2 separate regions of the Homo sapiens genome follow, and region 1 is linked to region 2. Evidence: fine-mapped expression QTL. Tissue or cell type: whole blood. Region 2 holds a variant in brackets; the other region holds the start of a gene. All regions are shown on one strand. Distances are between the middles of the regions.

What was found. PIP is the estimated chance that this variant, and not a neighbour inherited with it, causes the effect.
Region 1: TMEM185A starts here. The variant in region 2 is fine-mapped to the expression of TMEM185A in whole blood (TOPMed, PIP above 0.99).

The regions. Positions count from the first base shown.
Region 1 is chrX:149,628,344-149,636,440 of GRCh38, forward strand. TMEM185A (transmembrane protein 185A) reads right to left here and starts at 3,449. Exons shown (of 7, transcript NM_032508.4): 1 at 3,200-3,449. The coding sequence starts at 3,237. RefSeq lists silencers at 2,942-2,991, 3,002-3,411.
Region 2 is chrX:149,500,013-149,508,113 of GRCh38, forward strand. It overlaps IDS (iduronate 2-sulfatase), which reads right to left and starts at 5,294. Exons shown (of 9, transcript NM_000202.8): 1 at 5,023-5,294; 2 at 4,145-4,281; 3 at 3,300-3,477; 4 at 937-1,025. The coding sequence starts at 5,125. RefSeq lists enhancers at 3,873-4,421, 4,545-5,046, 5,039-5,198 and a silencer at 4,383-4,482. The variant C/T (reference allele first, on the strand shown) is at 3,818.

The sequences.
Region 1 (8,097 bases), 130 kb after region 2:
CCTACTCTAAGAACAGGGCTCTTTCACTGTTAGGAAGCCTCAGGCATTCAAGGAAGGACTTGTTTGTGGGTCCGGTACATCTGTTTCGGCATGTCTTAACCTGCATAACTAAAAAGCAATTATGAAAAGAAGTTCATGATCAACCAGTTCAGTGCCAGATGGAAATAGGTAGAGTGGGTCAGCTGGCAGCCCTGTACATCTGAGTGTTGACACTTGTGAATCATTCTCTGTCACTATAGTTTCCAGAGCCTTGCCAACGCAGCAGTGGGTTCAGACTTACCAAGATCCAAAAGGCTGGAAAGGGGATCTGGAGCCATGACCCATGCCTTGGGACCCACCAAACCATGACAGTGACTATTTCTATGACAAAGACATGCTCTTCAAAGTAAATATAGCCATATTCTGCCTTAGTGCCATGTTCTCTCCCATCTCTCCAAAGCAATGGCTGCACTCTGAAGGTGGGAAGAGTGTGAGAAGAAAGAGAACCAGGCCACAGACCACCAGGAAAGCAGTGATTGAAAGCAGCAGCTCTAGATTTATCTTATAGGCTCTGGAGAGTTATTCAGTTATTTACTCCACAAATATTTATTGAGCCAGGTACTATTCCAAGTATGCAGGCTACGATACTGACACAGTCACGGCCTTGACCCCATGGAGCTTAAAGTTTAGTGGGGGAGGCAGGTATTAATCAAATAAGCATCCAGACAGACACAAGGGTACAAATATGCACTATGATGGAGGAGTAGTAAATACTACAGGAACTGTAGAAACAGGGAGCAGTAAATCTGGTCAGGGAAGTCAGGAATGCTTCCCTTAGCAAGTGCCAAGTGAGGATAAATAGGAGTTCACTAGGTCTGGAGGAGAGGAAAAGAGAGGGAAACATTCCTGGTAAAGAGAACAGTGTGTGACAAGGTCCTGGGGTAGGAGGGAGATGTTGAATTGGTTCAAAAATAGAGGCAGGGAGCAAAGCAGTAGCATCAAGGTTTGAGTCCCCAGCATAAGGTAACTTCCTGTGTACACCCCTCAGTTTTCTTTCTCCTATAGAGAAGGCCTTCCTCAGCATGGAAGGAGACTAAAGCACACTGTCAAAAACTAGGAGTGCTCAGGAGAGGTGAAACACTACCAGCTAAAAAAACAAATCTGATTTACCAATAATACCTGGCCAATGTCCTCTTGAAATATCTGTAAAATTAAGGAACTCACTACCTCTGGCAACAATGAATCAGGAAAATGGCACAGTATAAAAGACCTTTAAACTTTTCAGGTAGAAATACATTTTAATGCAGGTAGAATTAAGAGATTGATGAATATGTTGAGAATTACTATAAATCTGCTTAGATACCAGGTATTTCACTGTAATTTCATATACTAATTTTTTTGGGGGGAAAAGGGCTAAAGGAAAAAACGGTTAAAGGTAGTATCAGTGCAGCACTATTTTGCTTTGGCAACTCCGTTAGCCTGTTTGATCACTTAAGGCAGTTTCTTGAGGCTTCTGAATTCTCTGTCACCTTGCAAACAAGTCACTGTAGCTTTCTATTTGTAAGGCACTTTGTAATCAATCCTTAATTGGCCTCCCTACCCCACTGAGAGATTATACTCATTCTACAGATAAAACAATAGATAAGTGAGTTGCCCAAGGGCACAAAACAATTCAGTTTTTACTTAACTTTCTTATCACCATCTCCAAATAGAAGACATACAGGGCTTGTCCAGCCACAGCACCAACCCTACTACCCTGCAGACCAATCTTAACCCCCTGATGCAGCAGAGGAAGGGACTGCAGTTAGTTCTGTTACCTCCTCTATGCCTTCGAAGCCAACAATGATAATGTCTGCACCGTGTTAGAGACACTGGCACTCCTAACCAGAACATGAACTCAAAGTGGAATAAGAGCACATACAAAGTCACAATGACTCACAAGTTAAAATGTCACCATCCCTAGGGAGACTGCACCCTCAACATACAAATACTCCCCTAAAACTTCCTTTCATCCTCAACAAGCAGCCAAGGCATAGGTCCCCAGAGTTGGCCCCCGCAGTACAGCACTGCACAGTACTGTAAGGCATCTTAAGTGTACAAGCCCTTCTTCACCCCATGCTGAGACCGCCAGCATCTAAAGCACCTAACATAGGTTACAGCACACAAATATTTACTGAGCACGTCTTCCCAACTGGCAAATAAGGGAAACGGATACTCCTTTCGGAGAGTAGTGCATTTAAGAGATCAGTTAGGCCAACTCCTCATTTTACAGAAGGGCCAAAGAAGGGCAGAGAATCACCCAGTTACATATGGCCTCGTCTCCAATCCAAGTCTTTGGGCTCAGTTTAGTTCCACAAACATTTTATATGTGCCTACTATGTGCCAGATACGGTGGGTGGGAGGCGCTGGGGACACTGAGATGAGCAGGAGATGGTCTCAGCTTCAGGGAGCTCACAGCCTGGGGTAAAGAACAGTTACAAAACAGTCGGGCAAGTGCAAGGACAGGCGCTTGAGTGCTTAGCCAGTGTTTTCTCCACACTGTCCACTGGGTGTTCCCCATCTGGAAAAGAAGGACAGCAATATCTACTTCCTGCAAATAAACTTGTAGTGAAGACTGATGAGAAAATGAGTATGGAAAATGATCAGGCTCACCCAGAAATGCATTATATAAGGTATTGCCATACCCCGACACTGACTCCAAGGATTCAACAGTGTTTCAGGTATCCGTTCAACAAAGAAGCAAACAAGAGAGGGATGGGCATAAACCCAAGGAAAACCCCAAGGACTGCGAGGAACTGGAGGAAACAGCTGGGGTGGGGGTAGGGGTGTTGGGTCGAGTGAGACGGCCCTGACGCGGAGAATGGAGGGCCCGCAGCGGCGCAGAAGAGGATGGAACCGAGACGAAGAAGTTGGGACACCAATGAGGGACAGCAAGCAGAAAAGAATGGGGTTCCCTTGGGGCAGGACGGGGCTCGCGGCCGGGCCCTTCCGGCCGTGGCCGGGCAGGGGCTGAAAGCACCGGGCACGGGAGGAGGAAGCGGGCGGGCGCCGAGGCCGACTGTTTTGCCTGGGGACCGCTTGCACCCGCAGGGAGGCTCGGGCAGGCGCCCGGGTCCTCGGGCTGCAGCATCTCGCCCGCCGTGCCTCCCCGGAGCCGAACACCAGCCCGCGCCCGAGCCCGCAGCGCGGACTCCCGGGGGCGCCAACGACGCCGCCTCACCTCGGGTTGAAGTCCTGGAAGAGGCCCCTCAGGTTCATGGCGGAGAACTTCACCGCGGCGTCCTCCTCCTCCTCCCCCGCACCCCGTGCTGCACAGCCTGCGCCTTACAGCGGGTTCATGGCGCCAGCGCCAGCCGCGTCCACGCTGCTGCTCCCGCTACTGCTGCCGTCCCCGCTGCCGTCGCCGTCGCCGTCGCCGCCGCCGCCGCCGCCGCCGCCGCCGCCGCCGCCGCCGCCGCCCGGAGAAACCTGAGCCACCGCCCCCTGCCCCTCCTTCCGGGCTTCCGTACGAGGGCCGCGCATGCGTCCGGAGCCCCGCCCAGAGCGCTCCTCGCTGGGAGGTCCCCATCCTTGTGTCCGCACGCGACCGGCGGAGGAGATGGCAGGGGGATGGAGGCTGGGAGTGAGCAGGGCCCCGAGGAAGGGGATGCTGACGGGCTGAAGGCCTGCAGGGAGGGAGCGCGCCGCCCGGGAGTCTGGCGGGCAGATCTTGGCAGACACCTGTCACCTTGGCCCGCGCTACCTTCTGGAGATTTTCCCCAGTGACGACTGAGCCCTGGGAGTAGTGACAATGAGTGAGACGTTGCATTTTTGGCGATGTCATCCCAGGCTTCACCTGTCACATCTGTCAACGACTCCAAAGTTTGGGTCCCAACTTCCCTTCCAATTCCCAAGCCAGCGTGTCCAGATATGCTGGCTATTCCCTACTCAAGTTACCTAGCACCAAAGTCACTTCCCGTGCCAACCGCCTTCCCCTCCTGGGTTCCCTTTTTCCCTTAGCAGCAGGCCTATTCGTACGCAGGGGGGTATTCAAGCAGGAGACGTGGAAATCATCCTCATTTTTCTAACCCAGTTCAGAGCCTCCTTGGATCCTGTCTAAACTTTGTGGTCACTTCACACCTGACCTCTGCCTCCACTCCAGGCTGCCCTACTTACAAGTACCAGGTTCATCTTCCTTGGGCAAGTCAACATCTTTGAGTCTCAGTTTTTCTCCTCCGCAGAATGGAAATGATAAAAACCTCTTTTCTAAGCGTGTTAGGAAGATTCAGTGAGATCGTGTGCATAACACACTGCCTGGTACATGCTAGGTGTACAAAGAATGCTGTTGCTATCTGGTACTCTTTCAGGTGTCAACCTCCTCAAGGATTTTGTTTGCTTTTGGAATCCAAGAGCAGGACAAGCTCATAGCAGGTGACCTAGTTTACCATCTTCACTTTGGGCAGATTTAAGTTTTCATGAGCACAACAATGCCTTAAACATTAGTCTACTATCATTATGGATAATAGTCATCCTTTGTTGCAATAGCAGAGTTTCACAAATGACAATTTTATACTGTTTAGCCCCAAGGGCAGCTTGAGAGAATCACAATTGCGATAGTCATACTTAGTCTTGATGTATCACCTTTCTTCTGAGAACGTAAAAACATATCATAAGTGGTAATTAAGCTTCCCAACACCCACTGGGAAATGGATATTATTATATGAGCTGATTTTAAGGTTGAGTAATCCAAATCAAGTTTTCATCTGCTGAAGCACCAGGACCCTGTCCCAGACTTTTTCACCCATCTTCCTTTCCCATCCTCTGGGTAAAGTCCAATGTGTAGCCCAGAGGAGGTTCTCAATGAACACTCAAATACAGACGAGGAATTAAGGCGCAGAGAAGCTTGTATAACAGGCCCTGAGCGAGCCAGCAAGTAAGGGTGAAGGAGCACAGATGAAACTCAGGGTCTAGCTGAACCTGCAGCCCATACTGTTAGAAAGAGGTGCTTGCCAGTGGTCAGATTGGACAGCACCATCTTCATTACCAGTGACCGTGCCCCAAGCAGGCATGAGAAGATGGTCTGCCAGTTCAGACACTTGAATAACAGGCATCACTGCCCTTTCAAGAGCTTCATAGATAGAGACCAGGCAGGCTCCTCAGAGTCCAGAATCTTGAGGGCAGACGCTACTTTAATGAGATCCCAGGGAGTCTGGGAGCTGAACCACTGCTCTGCAGGCCCACAAGTTCAATTTTAGCAGTTCTTCCAGAGTTGACCAGGCCCTGGAAGCTATCTAGCAAAGGCAACAGGACACTGATGCACAAATTACTTGTCAGTGTGTTCTTTTGCTCTGACAAGGTAAATTGCCAAGAGGAACATATGAACCTGTCTGTGAGGAAATACAGGAAGAACTGGACTTTCCCAAGGCTTCACATCCCCAGTCTTCAAGAGGTGGATTACCTGGACTGATTCTGGAAGCCCAACCCTTTATGCTACTGGTGCTCTCATGGGGAAAAAAAAGCCAGAAACCAGATGGCCATCTGGTCCTCTCTCCAGCAAGTGCAAAAGACCCTACTGACAACCTGCTGCTCACTTCAGAGCCCTCACTCAGTGTCCCACCCTAGATGGAGGTCCAAAGCCTCAATGACCTGTGTAGACAGACCCACAAGTGATCCTGACATTAAAGAAAGACCCTGGGTCATATGCAGGCACCAGGAGTGCTGGGAAGCTTAATTACCACTTATTAAATGTTTCTACATTCTCAGAAGAAAGGTGATACATCAAGGCTAAGTATGACTAGTGGAGAAGATGACACCCACATCTTCTCCACTAGCAGAGTTTGACTTTATCTTTTCCTTGACTTGCCAAAAAATTCCAGGGCTATCTTGCTAGGGGCTCCCAACATTCTTCACTCAAAGGAAAGAAATGGCTCTGGATTGAAAAAGTATGACCCCCAAATAAGCCAGACAGCATATTCTTGGTGACTTTGGGGTGGGCTTAGGTTACAGTGTTCCAGAAGAATCAGTGTATATCTGACCATGGTTTTAAGGACTAACTTGGATTTGTACCACCCTTCTGATAAGCTGGTGGCTTGTCCAATTCAATATTCACATTGGCTTCAATGTGGTGATATAGGATGCCTCTCCTCTGAAGAGCAAGGCACTGGTGAAGAGAATCCTGGTGAATTTAGACACTTGGACTGGGGAGACCTGGCATAGGGGAAGAAAATGGCCGTGGAACCGCCCTCCACACACCACCAAGGCTCCTTCCCTGGCTGCAGCAGTAGAATGGAGAGAGTGTGGAATTAGTAGATTTGAACTCAACACCAGTTTCACCCTTGCTCCAGTGGAGGGAGGGCCAGCTGGGATCCAGTCCCGTGCAAGGCCTATGGGACTATAAAGAGCTTCTCGGAGGTCAGATTGACAAGTTCTTTAGCCAGGAAACATGGAGGTGCCAGCCTGCAAGGCTTTCTTAGCCTGGAATTCCTCACCCTAGGTTCCCTAAAGTCCACACTTTGAATGCCACCAATTAGAGAATTGCTGAAGATGCTGGGAATTAGTCCACCTGCAGAATGCAATCTCCTGCTTCCTGACAGAACCCTTTGTTTCAGGCAACTTTAGCCTAACTTGGATACACATCTGAGATCTCCCTGGGAGGTGGGTGGGTCTGGAGTCTAGACAGGGATTTGATTAAATACGGGGCTAGATTTAGGGGCTTGGAGAACTGGAGGAGGAGATTGCAGGGAGGCAACTGAAGGGACCACAGAGGTAGTAGCTGTAGTTCTGCTTGGACTTGCAGCAACCCCTATGGCCTTCCAGAGCCCAGAAGGAGCCACCTCCTCAGGGAGTCTTCCCTCAGGTAGGCAAATTACAGTTACTGAGAGAGAAGAGGGAGGGAGGACAGTCCCAAGGCCCCAGTGGACCTCCTGTCACCCAGGGTAGCCCTGGGAGTGGGTGGTTTATCATCCCTCATGGAGCAAGCTTTCTGCTAAAGGAAGCAGGGGCCATTTCCTGTTGGAAGGCAGAATGGGGAGCCTTTGCCTGGGCCAGCAAACCACCACGGTATCCCTGTGCTTCTCCTCTGGACCTCTCCTGATGCCAGGGTTTCCAGGAAGCCTTCCCGGCTGTGCCACACTCCTCCAGTGTGCTGTGTATGCAAAGCCCAGGTCAAGTGTGTGTGGCCAAGCACACGGGGCAGACAAAAAGGCCCATGCTTGCCAAAGGTCACCAACCAGCTGCCCACATGATTCCTTTTTCTCCTTGTTCCCAACCTGCTCTCATTCCTGAATCTCCACTCAATGCTTGTCTTTCTCCCTTTCTGTTTCCACACTGTATTTCTGACACATTCCTCTGGGGCCCTCTGCCCTAACTAATCAAATGTGCTCTTCCTCATCTTGCCTTCCCCTAATGGATCCTTTCATCTTGGGTAGCCTGTAACCTTCACTCCTTTAGTTGCATTCATCTGACATATGTCTTCCAGAGTGTCTGCTTTGTGCCGGGCACTGTGGAAGGCACTGGGAACACACAGATATGAATAATGAAAACACAGCATTGTGCACGATAAGCATTGGGGATGAGGGAACCGCTGAGCTGAAAAAATAACATTGTAAGGTAGGAAGAGAGGAAATGAGGTTCCAGGCAGAGTAAACAACAGTTGTAAAAACACAGAAGTCAGTGAATGGAGGCAGGTGCACCATTTTGGAGAACAATATTGTCTGCAACCATCCTCCCTTCCCTTCCCACCACCCCACTCTGCCTACAGGCAGCTGTGCGTGTGCTCTCAGCTCTCTGTGCTTGGAGGAGTCAGTTTTGGAGTCCCATGATGCTTCCCACTATGCCCCTGTATTCTTGGATCCTGGCATGCAGTAGGTGCTCAGGCAATGGTCATGAAATGAATGCTGATGTTGGACAGTCACAGGGCACAAACAAAAAAGCAGTTCTTCCTCATCCCTTGCCTCAAACCAGGCAACTTGTGTCTGCAGGAAAAATGACCCTTTCTTTCCAAGTTTCTAATAGCTGCAGACATTATGTGGGTACCCACACTCCCACTTTCCTACAAATCATTGACATGTTGAGGTTTTTTGTGTCTTATTATAAAACAACTTATACCATGCTTGTACAGTTCTAAGATGTGAGATGAAC
Region 2 (8,101 bases):
ACCCCACCCTTGGGCAGGACAGCCCAGCACCCGCCTCAGACCACTTGTTCATCATCTATATATACACGATTTGCAGCACTCGAGGGAGATTTAGTATTGTCAGACCCACCACTTTGAGAAGAAATGGGTAGGGGGCAGTTAGGGCAGGGACCTGGCATTCGTAAGTGAGGCCACTAAAAAGAAGCAAGATGGCTTCAGGGAATTAAGATGGGATCTTCCCTATTCAAGCCACAAGCCAAAGGCCAGAGCTCACAGTTTTCACTGTATTCTGAAATGGAAAGCTGTCAAGAACTTAGAACAATACCTTCCACCTCACTTCCAAATCCTCACCCTTCCCAACACGATGTTTACTAAAACCTCAGAGATACATTTCATGTCTCAGTTCCCTAGCTGGTTTTCTGAGTTTCTTAAATGTGGGTTTTAGTTTCATTTATACATTTGGGATTCCTCTAAACCAAGATTTTCTTTGTAGGTTACTTTTTTTCATAATGCTCTAAAAATTCAAAACCCCTATCAGAGGTCTCAGCTGCTGAACATACACATTAGGTCAGAGACAGATACACGGCATGCCTTTCTCCCATTCTGGGCTGAGGCTCCTGGAGCTCAGCCTCTTTTCTCCCTCCCATGTCTCAGCATCTCCTACAACTCTCAGTCTCATCCAGCGTGAGCACTGGGGAGCTATTCAATGAGTCTGACACGTTAGAGCCCAAGGTTTTAGAACAAGTAGCACCCACCAGCTTCTAGAATGAAGCCACTGCTCCTGTCGGGCCTAATGCTGAAGATCCCAACACTTACTTCTGTCAAAACATTATCACAAATGAAACCCACAACTTCGTGGTATATAACCAGCTTCACAGAACATGCAGTATACCCAGTAGTTTATGTGACAAAGGAAAAAGTGGTTCCTCTTCAGAAATGTCCCTTTCACAGCCTTACCTTAGTGTTTTCATACTTCTCAGAGGAAGGATGATAAGGTGGAAAAGACCAGCTATACGGAGAATCATCGGTATGGTTAGAAGATATCCCTTGGAAAAAAAAAAAGGTTGTTAAAACATGATGAGTCTTTCAACACCCCACTCCCCATAATTAAAACTCTGTAAACAAATGGGCAAGTGGAACCTCCCTTCTTTGGGGCTCAGTTTCCTCATCTACAAAAGGTCCCCTCTAAAGCCAAACTCTCTAGTTTCTATTTGAGAACTAAGCATCTGACTTCCTGGTCCCTAAGCCCTGATGATTTGTGCTAGGCTCTGTGGAAGGGACCCACAAGGACAAGATCAGTCAGCTCCTTAGAGCCCATGCTGAAACCTATCTCTCACCCTATGAAGGAGGCAGCAGAGGCATCAGCACCATCAGGGAGCCGATGGGGGCAGGAGAGGGAGGCTCAGGGAAGGTATGTGACTTACCTATGCTAACCAGATATTAGATAAGGGAGCCAGGACTCAAAACCTTGTTTTAGAATTCCAAGTTCAAGTGCTCATTCATGAAGCAGAAACCCACCCTTAAGCTTAGTAGTTTATAGTTTATTTGTGAAGACAGTATAACAGCACTGGAAACCAAGGAAGGACTTCCAGCTTTCAAAAGCATCGAAGTGCCAAGTGGGGGATCCTCCAAGCACAGAGGTTATTGTGAGTCAGGTGAGGACTGGCAGGGAGGACTTCTAGGAGCCAGTGAGGCCTGTGAGGGATCTGAAGGGAAGTGCTGCCTATAGTGGTTAGCTGGGAGTGGAGGGGATCACAGGCAGAACCTCGTGAGAAAGCATCAGCAGCAGTCACACAGTGGGACTCCCATAGGGAGTACCAGAAGAGACAGGAATGGAGAGAAAGAGGGCAGCGGGTGGAGGGCCTATGAAGACAGCAAGCACTGTGGAAAGAGCACACAGGAAGCCAACAACCACAGGTCCAAATCCTGATGCTGCCTCTTAGCATCCTTGCAACCTCTGGCAAGCTACTTGACTCCCATGAGCCTTCATGTCTTCCTTGGGAAATGATGATGATGATAAAAACCCACCTTGCTTGCTGTTGGGAGGATTAAAGGAGTGGCCAGCATGGTAAACGGTACATACCTGGCACACAGTGGTGGCTACTGTCATCTTGAAGCAGGCCCAATGCTAACAGAAAAAGGTCTTGAGAACAAAGATTCAGCTGAAAAATGTGTTCCCACAAGGGCTGCAGGGAAAGGTTTATTCTCTGAGAAGGACATGGTGCTTAGAGCCTGGTGCCAAAATCCAATCATCAGGAGGGAGGAGGTCAAGCAACATCACTCAGTCCTTGCCTGGTTTCCCCTCCCAAAGCACAATCTCCTCCCTCTGCTGTGTTTCCTCCTCTCTCCAAAATCATCACTTCCCTCCAGCTGCATTTGGGCAAGGGGTATGGTAATGAGAACACCAAACTGCAGAAAGTTCTCCTGACACTGGACTTTTGGCTGTGCAATATGATTCCTGACAGGTTCACCTCTGAAACTGGCCTGACTTAGTAGAGCTGAATGTCACTCTCAACCTGGGCTGGCCAGCTGAGCTCCTGCAGAAGGCTGCCAAGCCTGCCGGTGTAACCACTGAGCAAAGGGAAAGAGACTGAAAACATTCGTCATTCCCAAATGATAAGCATTATTGTCCCTATGGTGCTCTTGTCTTCCAATACTTTTTTCTCCATTTTTTTTCTCAAATACTCATGCATTACTTCTATAAATAAAAAGTTTTAAAGTTTGTTTGCTTTTCACTATCCCCATATTGGCATTAAAGAGAGCCAGTTTATCAGGCAGCATTTGAGGTAAGGAATGTCCGTCTCTGGGACCCTATAGATCCTGGGTACCAGATTACACTCATCTTTCTGACTTAATTTCCAGAGTGGATAGCAGCCCCTACCTAAGCACAGCCCCCTCATTGGGCAATAAGTCAGCAACAGCAATGCTGGCCACACGGGAGGCCCTCAGGTGTCCTCACCCCACCCCTAGGTTTACTGACAGGTACCCTGCAGGGGAGAGGGTGGGGCCCTGAGCTGGACTCCACCCAACACTGCCACCTCCCCAGCCTGTGTCCTCCCTACCACCCGAGGAGCTGAAAGACCCAACAGCACACCCTCAGTGGTTTCTGAAAGGAAGCAAAGCTCTTTCTACCCTTTTTCACTTTGGGTGAAAACGTGGCTGGGTTGACAAGTCAGTTTTTTAGAAAGGAAGCACTGACTAGCGAGGGACTCGCCCAGCCAGAAGAGGGCTCTGCAAAGACAGCCCCATCCCCAGGATGGGAATGCTGGATTCAGACACCACAAACCAAGAGAACCCAGACTCTGGACATGGAGCAGTACCAGGGTGAAAGACTTTTCCCACCGACATGGTCACATAGCCATTCTCCTTGAAGTACTGGGGGATGGTGGAGAAGTTTCCAGCGTGCACCCTCCAGTAGGAGTTGAAGTCGTACAGGCGGGTGGTGTCAGGTCTCCTGCCAGTGAGGAAAGAAACGCGGCTCGGGGCGCACACTGCTTGCTGTTAGGGAGCAGAAGCAGAGGTAAGCATCGCCACAGCAAAACATGTCTGCCATCTCTTAGGTAACCAAGCAACCGCCCTCCCGAGGCTCCTAGCAAACAGCTTGGTAGCTGAGTCATGCAGAGCTCAAACCAGACACTGGGATTTGGGTGTCACCTAGGCAACAGACTGCTTCCGGGAGAGAAAAGGGAAGCAATCAGCCCCTGAAACCAGCAGATGCTTATCTCCTCCTACGCAATGGCCTCCCCAGGCACACAGAGCGGCCAGTGTTGCTGGGGGCAGAGCCATGAGGGGGTTCAGGGAGCAGGGCCACCCTGGCTAGCTCTCACCTGAGGCCCAG[C/T]CTGCAGACCTGTGGGTGCCCTTCTGCAGCACCCCTTCCTTCTGAGCACCAGGCAAGCGCCCGTTCTGGGAGAAAGCTGGCCAGGGCTGCCATGAACACATCAGGGCCAGGGCGCACCTTGCACCCAAGGAGAAGGCCACCCTTGAAGGTCAAGCTTTCCCATGAGTGGAAAACCAGATTTTCTCCACTACCATTTTCCAGACTATGCTTCCCTCTAACAAGATGTCCCGCACAATCTGTGCCATCTGACAATAGCTGAAGCTCCCCGCCCCCAACCCTCAGTGCACGAAGCAGCACACACCCACAGCTAGAGGTTCCCAGACATACCTGCGCAAAGGCATTCTGGAAGAGGAGGCTGTGGGATGCCAGTTGGTCAATATTTGGGGACCTCACCAGCTTATCCCCATAACAGCCCAGGGAGGGGCGCAGGTCATCCACGATGATGAGAAGAACGTTCAGAGCATCTACACAGGAGGGAGGGGCTTTGGTGAGGTAACCTGCACTGACACTGAACCCTCCCTCATGGTAGGTGCTAGGTTACTAAGAGGCCCAAGGCTGGACCCTGCACCTTAACAGCCTAGCCAGGGAGGGCGCTGTGCCTCAGCAAGGGTGGGAGTGGGGCTCGAGGAGGAAGCCTGAGTCCTGGGTGGCAGGGTTAGGCTTTGGTCATGGCCTCCAACCTGGGTGAGGAAGCGAGATAGTGAGTGAAAGATGGTGGAAAGGAAAGATGAATTTAGGAAAAAAAGAGAATGATGTATGCAGGAAAGGACAGATGGTTGGATGGAGGAAGATAAGGAGGAAAAGATGAATAGCTGAAGGGAAGAAAGGATGGAGAGAAGGAGGGGAGAAGAGAGAGAAATATGAATGGATAGAAGGTAAAAGGGACGGATGGACCAATGGAGGGAGGAAAGGAGGGGGAAAGATGGATGGATAGAGATGGGAAAGATGGGGGGAAAGAGGAAGGGAAGCACGGAGGGATAGGAGATGGATGGATGAATAGATGGAAAGAGGGAAGGGAGGGATGAAGGGACGGTAGGAAGGAGTGAAAAATGGAGGGAGGGAACGAATGATGGATGAAAGAAGGAATGGTAGGAGAGAGGAAGGGTAAAAAGAATGGATATAAACAAAGAAGGAAGGAAAGAAGGAAGGAGGAAGGAAGGGAGGGAGGAAGGGAGAAGAGATGGCAGGGAGGGCGTGGGCGGCACCTGTGGTCGAGTTGGCCTGCGTTTCGGATCCGAGGGCGACGCAGACGGAGCTCAGAACCAGACCCAGCCAGAGAAGGCCTCGGCCGGTCCGGGGTGGCGGCATTTCGGCTTCGACGCGGCCGCTTCAGAGCGGCGGGGACAGGCTGCAGCAGGTGGCGCAGTTAGCAGCCGCCGCCGCAGCCACAGAGACCTCCTCGTCGGGAACCCATGAAGACTGCGCAACACAGCCGCCGCCCGGGCCCGCAGGCCCGGGCGCTGGCCGCAGCGCGAGTGCGTCCGTGCGACTCTTCCCTGCGTCCCTCCCCTCCGGGGCGGGTTCTAGAGGTGCGCGTCATCCTGCAGCAATAGGCGTGGCCGAGAGACAGGCGCAGAGCGGGGGCGGGCCAGTTGCCTTGCAAGCTTCGCAGACCCAGCGGCCCGCAGGCCCCTAGGTGTAGAACTGCTAGGGGTATAGCGATTCAGCCACTGCCCTTAACAACTAGCAGTTACCCGTCTTTTTGCCTTTGCTTGTGCTATGCCTTTCACCTGGAAGCCCTGCCCTTCCTTCTTTTTATAAAAGACACACTTCTTGTAAGCCAGCCTCAATGCCATTCTCCTTCCATGAGGCCTTTTGAGAAAGTCCCTTCCTCCATCTAAAGGGACTCCCTTTCCTATTCATTTCTTCAACTAATTCTTATTAAGTATCGCAAATATGTATACCAGGCGCTGTTGGTGGCACTGGGGCTCTATGTCCCTGCTTTGGTGGAGCTTAAAACAATAAAAAAATATAGAGAGTGTCGGTGGGCATACCCGGTCTGGAGAAAAATAAAGCGTGGGTGCGGGGCATGCTTGTTATTTTCTATGGGGTGGCCAGGCAGGGCCTCACTAGTGAAGTGGCATTTGAACAAAATTTTGAAGCAAGTGAGGGAGCAAGCCGCATTGAGGTCTGCAAGAAGGGTGCGCCAAACAGAGAGAGCAGCAATTGTGGGGAGATGGAATCCTAGCCCTACACTGTACTGTACTGAATACTATTATACCGTCCTAATACTGCAAACACAGTTTGATTTTCAACTTTGAGAATCAATCTATAACAAAGCCCAGATGACTTAATTATGACTAAACAACAATGGACAATGGGAAGGTACAAATACAGCTGTGATGGTGCTGTGGTGCACTGCTCAGATCTCCCTTCAACACCAAAAATTTTATTTCCCTAGCTGGCTTGAGAGCTGTTAGCTGTCGTTAGCCCTCATCAGAAATTGTCTTAGAAAAAGATAGGTACCTCAGCCAAGGTCACCCCTGTTCTCAGGAAGCCCACATCAGTGATTCAACTTGAAGGTACAAAGGTGCAGCCCCTTACCCCAACTTGGGACATCTCTGAAAGGCCATTTCAGCTTCAGAGCTCCCTGTGGGGTTAACTGAAGCCTTTTTTGAGACTGCCCACTTTCTCTGTCTGTTGAATTTTGATTTCTTCCCTCCCCTCCCCTTCTACAGGTGTTGATCCTAAGAGTACTCCCTAAGAAACTTCCTGCACATTACTCTACATCTTAGTCAGCTTCCTTGGGAACCTGGCCTGCAGCAACAGTTGACAAAAAGCTGGGAGGAGGAAGGGAGATGGCAGGAAATGTAGGCACATTAATTTAGGGTTAGCAATTTAGGATTGTCTCCTTTGCCCCAGCCTATCGCAAAAAAATAATAATAATAATAATAATAAATCAATAGTCGCTGTCCCCAGTTCATAGAAAGAGAAATACAGATTTAGGGATATTACTTAAAGATACAAAAGTAAACAATAGAAAACTTAAAAATGGCAATAAATCTATATAGTAAAAGGAGAAGGGAAAATGGCAGGGAGAGATGAAACAAAATTTGTCATGAGTTGATAACCAATGAAGTTCATTGATGAACACCTGGGGTTTATTATACTATTTTCTGTAATCTTGTATAGGTTTGATCAATTTCCAAAATCCAAGGTTAAAAATATGTACATAAAAAGAGGAATGGATAAGTGATCTCATCTATCATAGGAAGAAGTCAGCAATGTCTAAAGTTGAAAACATTAGAAAGTTGATATAGAAATAGCATAGTATTTAGAAAGACAGGGACAATCTACTAGAAGAAATGAAAGTAGAAACATTTAAAATGAGAACAGAAGAGGGAAGGTGCAGGGCAGAGGGCCTTTGCTTTGTATGGTATGTCTTTTGGTCCTTTTTGACTTAGGTGTTAGTGTCCTCCCCCCAAAAATTGTATGTTGGAGTCCTAACACCCAGTACCTCAGAATGTGATCTTATTTGGAAACAGGGTCTTTAACAGGGTAATCAAGTTAAAAGGAGGTAATTGGGTTGGGCCCTAATCCAATATGACTGGGGTCCTTATCAAAAGAAAAAATTTGGACACAGACACAAACACATAGAGAGAAGACATCCATGTGAAGACAATGGATTGAAGTGATGCATCTACAAGCCAGTGGATGCCAATGATTGCCAGCAAACCACAAGAAGCTAGGAAGAGGCAAGGAAGCATTCTTCTTCTATAGGTTTCAGGGGGTGCATGGTCCTGCTGGCACCTTGATTTAAGACTTCTGGCCTCCAAAACTGTAAGACAATGCATTTCTGTTGTTCTAAGCCATGTAATTTGTAGTACTTTGTTACAGCAGCCCTAGAAAACTAACACTACCTATAAACAATTCAAAATTTAACAAGATTGATTGTCTCAGCTGGGATAGAAAATTATATATGCCACTTGGCACAATTGTGTGTGTTTGTTTTTGTTGTTTGTTTGCTCTGGTGTAAGCTCGAGGTTTTGCTGGGGCTCATAGCAGCAGAAGGACAAGAGTGGGAGCAAGTGGAGAGAGCCAGTAAGAGAGCAGTTCAGGTGGCTGACAGTGGTTAAGAAGACTGGTGGACTGGGGACAAACAAAGATCTAGGAGATGGGTGAGGATATAGAGAGGCAGCAAGGGTGTGAGAGTACTGGTTTTAGTCCCAGAATGAGACCCTGAAATTTAAGATTTCTGAGGTAAAACAGATCCTGGTGATTTAAAGGTCAAGGATGTGGCCTTGAAGCTGGGAGGCTGAGGTGGGGGGGAAGAGATTGCTAGAG